Linked DNA regions of Homo sapiens: region 1 is linked to region 2. The links come from fine-mapping of genetic effects on gene expression. A gene starts in region 2. The other region holds a variant in brackets. All regions are shown on one strand. Distances are between the middles of the regions.

Region 1 (5,386 bases), 95 kb after region 2:
CTAATTTTTAACTGCCTCAGAATATTCCACAGAATGGATTTATCACAGATTTTTTTAAATGTTCTTATCCTTAAATATTACAAATGAATAGAAAAGTGTAGAATATACTAAAACAAACATCCATGAACCCACCCGATACTTGATCTGTTAAAAATCTTGCTATTTTGCTGTGTTTGCGTCAGCTCTTTTTTAAGAAATAAAGCACCCCCGATGCAAGTTGAAGCTCCTTTTGTATATTCTATCTCCCACCCTGTCCTGTCCTCTTCCTTCTCTCCCAAGAGCTAGACACCATCCTGAATTCTTTGGGTATCATTCTCAAGTATGTCTTATACTTCATAATTATGTATCTATAAACAATGTACAGCATTGTTTGGCATGTTTTAAATTTTTGTGTAAATGTTTACCAGTTTATTTAGCCAATTCCCTTTGGGTGGACATTTAAATTGTTTTCAGCTTTTTTCTATTACAAACAAAGTTGCAATGAGCAACTTTATTCTTCCTTGTGTACATATGAGTGTTTCCTTAGGACAGAAACCAAAGAGAATTATTACTGGATCATGGGATATGTGATGTTTTCCAAAACAATTTTACAAGACATGCAAACTGCTTTCCCAATTGGCTGCAACATTATTCTAAGTAAATATTTTTATTGCGGCATAACATTCATTTAGCAAAATGCACATATAAATGCACAGATTGATGAATTTTCACAATAGTGAACATACTGGGCTTAAGGAATGGAACATTCCTAGACTGCAGAAGACCCCCACTGTGGCCCCTTCTTATTGAATGCTCCCCTGGGGTATTCAATATCCTAACATCTTACAGGACAAGTTAATTTTGTCTGTTTTTGTACTTTATATAAATGAAATTTTATTGTGTGGCTCTTTTGTATCTATATTCTTTCATTTAACATTTTACATGTGTATTCATCTAAGTTGTGTGTAGTTGTAGATCATTCTTGTTGCTATTTAGTATTTTATTGCAGGAATATAATGCAGTTTTATTTATCCAGTTTACTGTTGATGTATTTGGGTGGTTTCTAGTTTGGGGCTATTACAAATAGTGCTGCTAGGAACATTCTAGTAGCTGTTTCTAGGTGCACAGGTGCACTTATTTCTGTTGCATATATACCTAGAAGTGTAATGATTGAGCCATAAGATATGGGTACGTCCAGCTTTAATAGAAACTGCCAGTTTTCCATAGTGGCTGTGCCAGTGTGCACTCCTATCAGCCATGCATGGGAGTTCCAGTTGCTTCACAGCCTCATCAACACTTTTTCATTTTGGCCATTCTGGTAGGTGTGCACTGGTGTTGCGTTGTGGTTCCAAATTTCCCTGATGACTAAGTACAACACTTTCTCTAATGTACACTATTACATTTTGTGGTTATTTCATAATTTTCTTAAGCAGTTCCTCCATTGTACAGTATTTGTTATTTCTGCTTTTTTCATAGTTATAAACAATATTGTGACAAACATCTTTGTAGTTAAATATATTTCTAATTTTTTGAGGGTACATAGTAGGTGTATATATTAATATTCATGAGGTATATAGGATAATTTGATACAGGTATACAGTGTGTAATAATCGCATCATGAGTTTTTTAAATGGGTTAAAATAAATGTCTTTTTTAATCACCTCAAGCATTTATCCCTGTGTTATAAACAATCAAATTATACTCTTTTCACTATTTTTAAATGTACAATTAAATTATTATGGACTATAGTCACCCTGTTGTGCTATCAAATATTAGATCTCATTTATTCCTTCTAACTATTTTTTGGACCCATTGTAGTTAAATATTTTTGTACTTGCCTTATGATATATTTGAGGTAAATTCCTATAAGTGGTGCTACAGGGTCAAAAACAGTGATTATTCTCTTATGTCTTTGGAGATGCGTTGCCCTGAAGAAGGATGATATTGTTCACACCCCAACCAGCTCAGTAGAGACAAGTTTTTTCTCCAGTGTTAGACAGTGCAGGACTCAGCTATGAGGGTGTTTGGGCCCTCCAGGACTTTGAACATTTGTTCAACTAATGTTGGTGGCCAAGGAGTGCGGTACTTTTACAGTCCCTTCCTGTCCCCCAAGAATGCCTCCCATGCCTTGCAGGACAATAAGCCCTTTCCTCTCTTAGTGTTTGTCAGGATGAATTATCATGCCGTGACTGGTCCTTTTGGTCTCCTATGGCAGCAGTTCCCAATCTTTCTGGCACCAGGGAACAGTTTTGTGGAAGACAGTTTTTCCATGAACTGGGGTAGGGAGAAGGATGGTTACAGGATGAAACTGTTCCACCTTGGATCATCAGGCATTAGATTTTCATAAGGAGCGTGCAAACTAGATCCCTCACATGTGCAGTTCACAATAGGGTTTATGCTTCTGTAAGAATCTAATGCTGCCACTGATCTGACAGGAGGCGGAGCTGAAGTGGTAATGCTTGCTCACCTGCTGCTCACCTCCTCCTGTGCAGCCAGGTTCCTAACAGGCCACAGACTGGTACTGGTCCATGGCCTGAGGGTTGGAGACTCTTGTCCTAAGGGACATTTCTTATGACCTGCCTTTTTTGTGCCACTGTTACTCAATGCTGTGTAAGGTAGATAACAAAAGGCAATATATTACTATAGGATTCAGGGAGACCTGGATTCAAACCCTGGTTCTACCTCTTATTAGGGAAAAATTATTTAATCTTTCTGGGCCCCAGTATCTTCTCTAAATGGTAAATGCAGTTGTTTTGAAATAGGAAAAATTAAATGAGAAAAGTTCCTAGCCTGACTTTGCAAAAGAGGATGCTCAAATGGCCATAAAGTATATGAGAAGGGGCTCAACTGTTTTAATCATCAGGGAAATGTAAATTAAAACTAGTGACATACTATGACCCATCCAGAAAGGCTAAAATTAGAGACTGACATAATTGAAGTCAAAGAGAATAAAGAGTGACCAGAACCTTTATAAACTGCTGGTAGGGACATAATTGGTGGAACTGCCTTGGAAAACTGTTTTGAAGTTTCTACTGAAGCTAAACTTATGCCTAGTCCATGGCCAGCAACCCTACTCCTAGGAAAATACTCAATAGAAATATGTACATGTATATCCGAAAGACATGAACATAAATATTCCATAGCAGCGTTATTCATAATAACTCAAAACTAGAAACAACCTGTATCAACAGCAGAATTATTATGGTA[C/T]ATTTACACAGTGGAATACTATGCAGCAATAAAAAGGATAAGTTATACTGTGCATGGATGCATCTCACAGACATAATCTTGAGCAAGAGAAGCCAACATAAAAGAGTCTATATTATATGATTCCATTTATATGAAGGTCAAAAACCAGACAAATGACTTCATGTGGCCAGAGGCAAAAGAGTGGCTATCTTTGAGACAGGCAGTGACTAGAAAGGATCCTGAGGATCTTTCAGTCTCTGGAATGTTTTATATCTTGACCTGGGTGGGAATTACATGGGTATATACAAATGCAAGGGTTCATCAAGCTATAAACTAAATTTATGTGCTTTACTGCATGTCAGTTATACTGCAATAAAGAAGAAGTTAAAGGTACTTGGTCCAGTGATAAATAAACAGGAAATCATATTATTTCCACATACATTACACATTCCTTACCAGTATCAGCTGCAACTCTTGGCACACAGTGGTGTCTTAATATTTGTTCCTGTTTCTCTCTCTACCCCCTTGTGTTGGTGGCAGGATCTCCGTCTGTGATGAGGACAAATTTGGCCACAATGAATTTATTGGTGAGACCAGATTCTCCCTCAAGAAACTGAAGCCCAACCAGAGGAAGAATTTCAACATCTGCCTGGAGCGAGTGATTCCTGTGAGTGACTTTACCCTGAGGATCTGATGGGAGGAGGGGAGATTGGGGGAGCTGCCTTCCTCTGGGTCTGAATTGGGGGAAATAGATCCACGGGGTATTGGGTAGCAGAGGCACTGCAGCAGGTCTGCAGAGGAGAGTCAAGATTCCAGCTCACAACCTCAGGCTGCATTCTCTCTCTGCCTTTCACAAACCCTGTGTCAGCATCACTTCGAACATGAGTTCTTCTTGGCCAAACTGGATGGACAGCATGGCAGGGGCAGCATGGGCTTCCTGGGTTCAGAGCCAGCTCTGCCACTTGCTGCTCCATGGCCTTGGCCAAGGGGCTGAACCACTCCGAGCCTCGGTGTTCTTGTCTGTAATGTGGGTGTTATAACAGTACCTGCCTCTTGGGAGGGTTGTGTTTTAAAAAATAACATAATCAAAATAGAACTTAATGCATAGTAAGCACTCATAAATTAACAGTTGTTAGTGTAGGAAATATTGCTGCCTTACCCACCTGTCAGTCATGAAGTCAGAAAGCACCATGTAGATAAACAGCAGACAGCATAGCCTAGAGTTTAAGAGTATGGGCTCTGCAGCCAGACTCTCGGGTGTGAATCCTGGCTCTGCCACTTAGGGTATAACCTGAGGCAAATTATTTAATTTCTCTGGGCCTCAGATGTCTCATCTGTAAAATGGGATACTGTAGTACTAACCTCATAGGATCTTTTAAGGATTGAATGTGATAATACATATGAAGTATTAGAACTGTCATTGTTGTTGTCAGATGTGATTCTTGCTCTTTGAGAAAATAGCAAGGATCAAAGTGAGGTTCTGCAATGGGGTTGCACCTCAGAATTAACCGGGGGATTCTAAAACCAGAGCTTTACAAGCTAAGATTTGTGGGGGTCTCCCCTGGAGATTCTGTTTTAGTGGGGTAGGGTAGGACTCAACAATCTATATTTTTAGAGATAATTCAGGCTGCCTTGCCTTACGTATGGGCCAACTTGGGCCCAGAAAGGGTAGCAAGTCTCCAAGGTCTCTGGGCACTGGCCAGAGTCCAGCTCTCCTACAACACCAGCACCCCTGGTCTCTCTGGGCAGCCTGCCTGCTCTCCACAGGGAAGCTATGGGGTGCAGGAGCATCTTCCCACCAGATGGCCAGCCTGAGGATGGAATGTCTGCATGCCATGCCATAGTTTTATAGTTCAGGCAAAGGAACAAGACCAAACAAGGAAAATTTCAAGGAAGGATTTCCACTGAATTCCAGGCTCAGAATAAATCCTTAAAGACATCCCTAGGAATGAGGCCCTTCTTCTGGGCTTTTGCCTGGTGACAGCTGGGTCTTCAGGCTTCTCTTCCTTCTCCAACTCCGTGAGTCCAGTTGGCCAGGACAATGGCCAGGCCCTTGCCTGTGTCATCAGCCTTTGGGTCTTCCCATCTTGCTATGGTGAATGCAGCCAGCCCCAGAGACATGGAGGTGCAGGACACCCAGAGGGCTGCAGCAGCCGCAGAACACTACTGATCATCTTCTTTTGCTCTTTGCCATTAAACCTTAACCCTTGCACCACGAACT
Region 2 (5,386 bases):
CTTTGATTATGGACAAGTCAATTCTCGTCTCTGGTCCCGAGTTTCTCCATCTGTAAATTGAGGACACTGAATTTATGTCACAGGATCATCCCAGAAAATATTCGATGAAAATTTTCCCCTCAAACTTGTAGAATGCATTTGAAATGAACTCTGAGAGACATCCTGGAGCATGTTCTTTGGAATCATACGACACTGAGTTTGAATGCTGTGTCTGTAACTTACTGTGAAGCCTTGAGCAAGGAATTTTATTTCTTGAGTCTAAGTTTTCTCATTTGCAAGATGGGAATAATACTAGTGTCCTGAAAGGGTCATGGTGAGGACTTCAGAAGATGATACATGTAAAGTTCCTAGCAGAAGAGCTGGCACATAGTAGGTTTTCAATAGCAGCCATCATTGCCACCACCACCACCACCACCATAATCATCACCATCAACATCATCAGCATAATCATTGTCAATCAACACCATCACTATAATCATCACTATGATTACCATCATGATGACAATTACTACCACCACCACCACCACCACCACTGAGGCAGGTGGTTCATTTGAGGCGAGGAGTTCAAGACCAGCTGGGGCAATATAGTGAGACCCATCTCTGCAAAAAAAAAAAAAAAAAAAAAATTAGCAGGGTATATTCGTGTGCACCTTGAGTCCTAGCTACTGGACAGGCTGGGGTGGGAGGATCACTTAAGCCCAGGAGTTCAAGGTTTCAGTGAGCTATGATTGCACCACTGCGCTCCAGCTTGGGTGACAGAGTGAGACACTGTCTTTTTCTTTTTTTTTTTGAGATGGAGTTTCACTCTCGTTGCCCAGGTTGGAGTGTAATGGTGCAACCTCGGCTCACTGCAGCCTCTGCCTTCCAGGTTCATGTGATTCTCCTGCCTCCACCTCCCGAGTAGCTGGGATTACAGGTGCACACCACCATGCCCAGCTATTTTTTTGTATTTTTAGTAGAGATGGGGTTTCACCATGTTGGCCAGGCTGATCTCGAACTCCTGACCTTAGGTAATCCACCTGCCTCGGCCTCCCAAAGTGCTGGGATTACAGGCATGAGCCACCGCGCCTGGCAGAGACACTGTCTTTAAAAAATTGTTTTTTAAATGAGCTCTAAATGTTCTCATTTTAACTCCTGGGTCTCATGGGGAGAAGTAAGTGACAAATGTAGTAGTTAACCCTGGGCCATCTGGATGGGAAGCTTTAGATATGAGTCTCCAATAGAGAGAGTTCTCCTTCACTTTGCAGAGAAGTTCTAAGCAGATCTTGGTCTGTTTGAGATTTCCTGGCCTTTTTCCAATTTGAGCCCTTTCCCAAAGTTAGGAGGAATAGGACTCTTGAGATATGGAGCACTGGGAGCCATGGGAATCCATTCATCTTTATATATTTCCCCTTTTGATACTTTTATTTCATTGTCCATATAGTGAATTCACTTCAGAAAGCCAGTCTGGATCTTTCGGGGAAGGCTCTTTGGCCAAGGCTCAATGGTCTGATTTAGACCTAAAATTTCCCTTCATTCTACTCAAACCACCTGCTGAAGGGTGAGGTTGGCACATGCCATCCTAGCTGGGCTGTCAATTCCTTTATCACTCTGTCCAAACATTTGTGTTTTAGGACAGGTTATGGACCATGAAATCATGGCAGTTCACAGCTTGGGTATTCTTATTGTTGCATTTTAACCTCTTGCTTCCTATCTTTAGGAAAAATAAGGTCATTATGTTATCATTTTCACAGATGGGACTTGGAAACATTAAATGACTTTTCCAGAGTTGTAAGGGGGCTGGATCTGACTTCCAGAAAACCATCAAGTGCTTATTCAACTAAGCCACCCTGCCCCTTAGAAATTTCCATTTCTTAAGCCTCAGCTTTTCTGCTCTGAATTCTGAGAAACTCCAGGTACAGGTCAAAAATCTGCAGCAATGGGGGTGAGGACAGGTCATCTGGGCGAAACTTTGAGGGGCAAAACCACTTAGGGAGCCCCCCACACCGGTGCCAAGCTCTTGTCTGAGCAGAGAGGAGCAATGCAGGACTGGGGGCGTGTGGGAGACAGGGGCTGTGAAGTTATAGTTCCTTTGCTCTGAGAGTGAGCGACAGTATTAGAAAAAGTGTGTGGTAGGTAAGCTGTCACTGACTAGACTGTGTGATGTCGAGAAGTCCCGTCCCCCACCCCTCCGGACTCCCCCCTTCTCTGCTTTAACCATCCAATTACTTAACTTCTCTGCCTAGGGGTTCGCTTCCCACCCATCCCCTCCTCCAAGGCATCTTAGCGCTGTCCGTGGTGCTGACCGCCAATCCCCTGGTTGCCGTTTCGACCAGCTGGGATCTCTGGTGCGCCCAACCTCCCCTCCCGGCCTCCCACCTTTCTTTCTCCAGGCACCGCACACATAAATCACGGGTGGGAGGCAGGCTTGGTTCCCGCTTGGTTCCCCCTGCACTGGGAAGCTGCCGCCCCGCTTCCCTTGCTCACACAGGGCTTTGCAGTAGTGGTGGCAGCCGCGGCAGAAACTGGCTCTGGGGAAGCAATTGATTCGTCTACTGCCAGCAGCCCGGAGTTGCCTACGCGGACTGGAAAGGAAGGGAGAAGGGAGAGAGAGAGAGAGAGAGAGAGAGAGAGAGAGAGAGACTCACAGAGCTAAAACCTTCATCCATGTGGAGGACAGTCTGAGGGAGCCACTGTCCCTTGTCCACTGACTCACTGGCTGGTCCGAGTTTTCTCCGCTTCTGGCAGTGGTATTTCTTTTTGTCTTGGTCCTGCATGATTTAGGGGTAGTTGATGTGTCTGTGTGTCTACGTGTGTGCACTGGTGCTTTGATTTTATTTTGGGAAGAGTAGGAGAGTCAAATGAACAATTTTCTTTCAGGCACCTCCGCTGAGCTTTTAAACCAAGTCATTGGGACTTAGCGTCTTTCTACCCGGCAGGGAAGGGAGGAGTTGGCAAGAATTTGGCTCACCCATTCCCCCTGCAAGCCTCCAGCGTCGCGGTAAGTGATATTCTCCCGGGTTGTGCAGATGGGCTAGGGGTGTTGGAATCCCAATTGTGATGTGTGTTCATGAGCTGGTGGGGTAAAGGGTAGTTGGGAGGAGAAGGGTATCGAGGAACGACTATGCTTATTTGCCTACATCCTGCAGTGTTTTATCACCTAAGCGGCATCCCAAAGCCAAATGAGATTTTGGCTTAGTGCCCAGGGAGGGGGTAAAATGTGCTCATGTTGTAGGCAATGCGATCAAGATTGTGGCTTCTGCCCAATTTGCCCTCTCCTTTGCAGCAGAAGCTGGTGAAAGTAGCCGGCAGTTCTCTGAGAGAGTTAACCCTTCGTGGGGCTGGCTAGTCTAGCATGGAGGGACTCTGGGTACTCTGACTTAGCAAGTGAGTGCTTATCCCTGGAGGGGAGGGGGTCACCTGAGACTGGAAGGGTAACTTTTGCCTGGGCACACTGGGTAAGATTTGCACAGGACAGAGCTTAGATTGTACCCTCTTCTAGGAACAGCTGAGTAATTTAATTGTGGTGATTTTTGCGAGGTTGGCTGTTCACGCTTTCCTGAGATGGAAGACCTGGGAGCCAGGAAAGGGCCACACTATGCCTGGGATGAGTGGTCAGGCTGGCCAGAAGGGAGCAGCCACTGCCTGCAGAGGAGATGATGTTTTATTTTCACAGGTGGCGTAACCTGTAAGTGATTGTATGGGGGAGCGTCCTGGCACTAGCTTGGGAGATTCTATCCTTGAGTTCATCTCAGAAGGAAGGAGGGGAACAAAGCTTGTTCAAATTCTGGGGAAAGATTCCAGGCTTCAGCTTCAGTTTTGTTCCAGGGTAGACCGTCCCCCTGCACTAGTTTCTTTTTCCAAGATCCTGATGGGGAAAGGCTGCACCAACCTGTTAGTGAGTGGGAAGTGGAAGTACCTTGAAATTGAATCCAAAAGCTCACATTTAATTTTGAAATGCTTTTGATGCTAATCTGCTACCCATCAAAAGGGGATTTCACTTTGCTTTCTGCTTTGATTACATCTACTTTTCTGGAAATGAATGCCCTTGTTTTTAGCATTTTTGCTATTATCTCAGGGGCCACCTCAGTGTTCTGCACCCCCAAGGATTTCCTTTTTAGATTCTTGCTCTTGGAGGTGGGAGGAATAAAACAACAGTCAGAGATTGGCAAGCCTGAAATATAAGCAGGGTTCACTCATTCTTTTTTTCTCTAGCCCCATAGCTAAGAAGAGATGCTGAAATCCCACAGCATGTGCCTGCTCAGGCAGGACATATGAGGCAGAAGAGGAGGGTTGTCTGGTGGTTAGTGTCAAAGATTTGGTTCTCAAAATCCCTAACTTCTCTTCCTAGCTTCTCTTGCTGGGTGACCTTGAGGAGGAAGTTGCCTTAGATTCCTCACTGGGAAGACTTGAGTGTGAATAATGAATGTGTGGAAATTTTGTTCAAAAAAAGAACCACATATCTGGCTATGGGTGATATTTAAAGTATTGAAATTTGGTACTAATCGATCAGAATGGCTAGGGTCCTGGAATAGGGCATCTTAGGGGGCCCCTGCTGTACTGAGTGTTAATCTTTTAATTGCTGGATTATGGAGAGGTTTGGGGGGATCTTAGGGGGCTATCAAGAGAGCCACGAGGCCTCAGGGCAGCATCCCCATTTAATTTTAATATTTATATTTTATTTTAATATTTTTAACAACTGGTTTAGCCATGCAGTACAGGCCAGCCCAGCTGGGATAGCTAATACTTGGGTGTCCAGATGTGGACACTTCCCAAATATCTCTCCACTGGGTCACTTCCTTAGGGATGGCCAAGATCCAAGAGGCCGCCCTCCCTCCTCCCCCATCACATTTGAAGTGGTGCATTGTGGTGCACCAGGGAAAGGGAAAGAGAAGCTTCTGGAAAGAGCCTTGGACTTGGGTCAGGAGACCTGGGTTCCAGTCCCAGCTGTCTCCCCTTTCTGGGCCTCAGCTTCCCCATCTATGCAATGGGGCAGTCTGTCTGGGTGGCCCTAAGTCCCCTTCAAGTTCTGGGGTTCTCTGACTATGAGATAGGTATGTGTGTGAGTGTGAGTGACTGCACATGCCCACATTTCTAGGAAGGGTTAGCACTGTGCTTGAGAATTTATCCTGTGTCGGGGAGAGGCCCTGTTTGGGGTGATTGGGGATAGGGGAGTCTCTTGTGAGAACTTTGCTAGGTTTCTAGAATCCTGAGCTCAGCTGGAAAGGGGTCTGCTTTATTTATGGCCTCAGATGCACAGAGATGTAGATTTTGCAGCACTTGAAGGCTCCAAAGAGACTCTTCTCAGGAGTAGCAGCAAGGACTCCTTGGAGAGGCTCTGCTCTGAAAAGATGCATATACACACAAACACACAACATCAGGGGGTTAGTGGATCCTCAATAATGCC

What was found. PIP is the estimated chance that this variant, and not a neighbour inherited with it, causes the effect.
Region 1: its variant is fine-mapped to the expression of RPH3A in whole blood (INTERVAL, PIP above 0.99).

The regions. Positions count from the first base shown.
Region 1 is chr12:112,884,092-112,889,477 of GRCh38, forward strand. RPH3A (rabphilin 3A) reads left to right here. Exons shown (of 22, transcript NM_001143854.2): 17 at 3,706-3,832. Among named protein-coding and RNA genes, the nearest start is that of OAS1, 20 kb to the right of the region's middle. The variant C/T (reference allele first, on the strand shown) is at 3,187.
Region 2 is chr12:112,789,284-112,794,669 of GRCh38, forward strand. It overlaps RPH3A (rabphilin 3A), which reads left to right and starts at 2,465. Exons shown (of 22, transcript NM_001143854.2): 1 at 2,465-2,729; 2 at 2,860-2,980. RefSeq lists an enhancer at 2,557-3,098.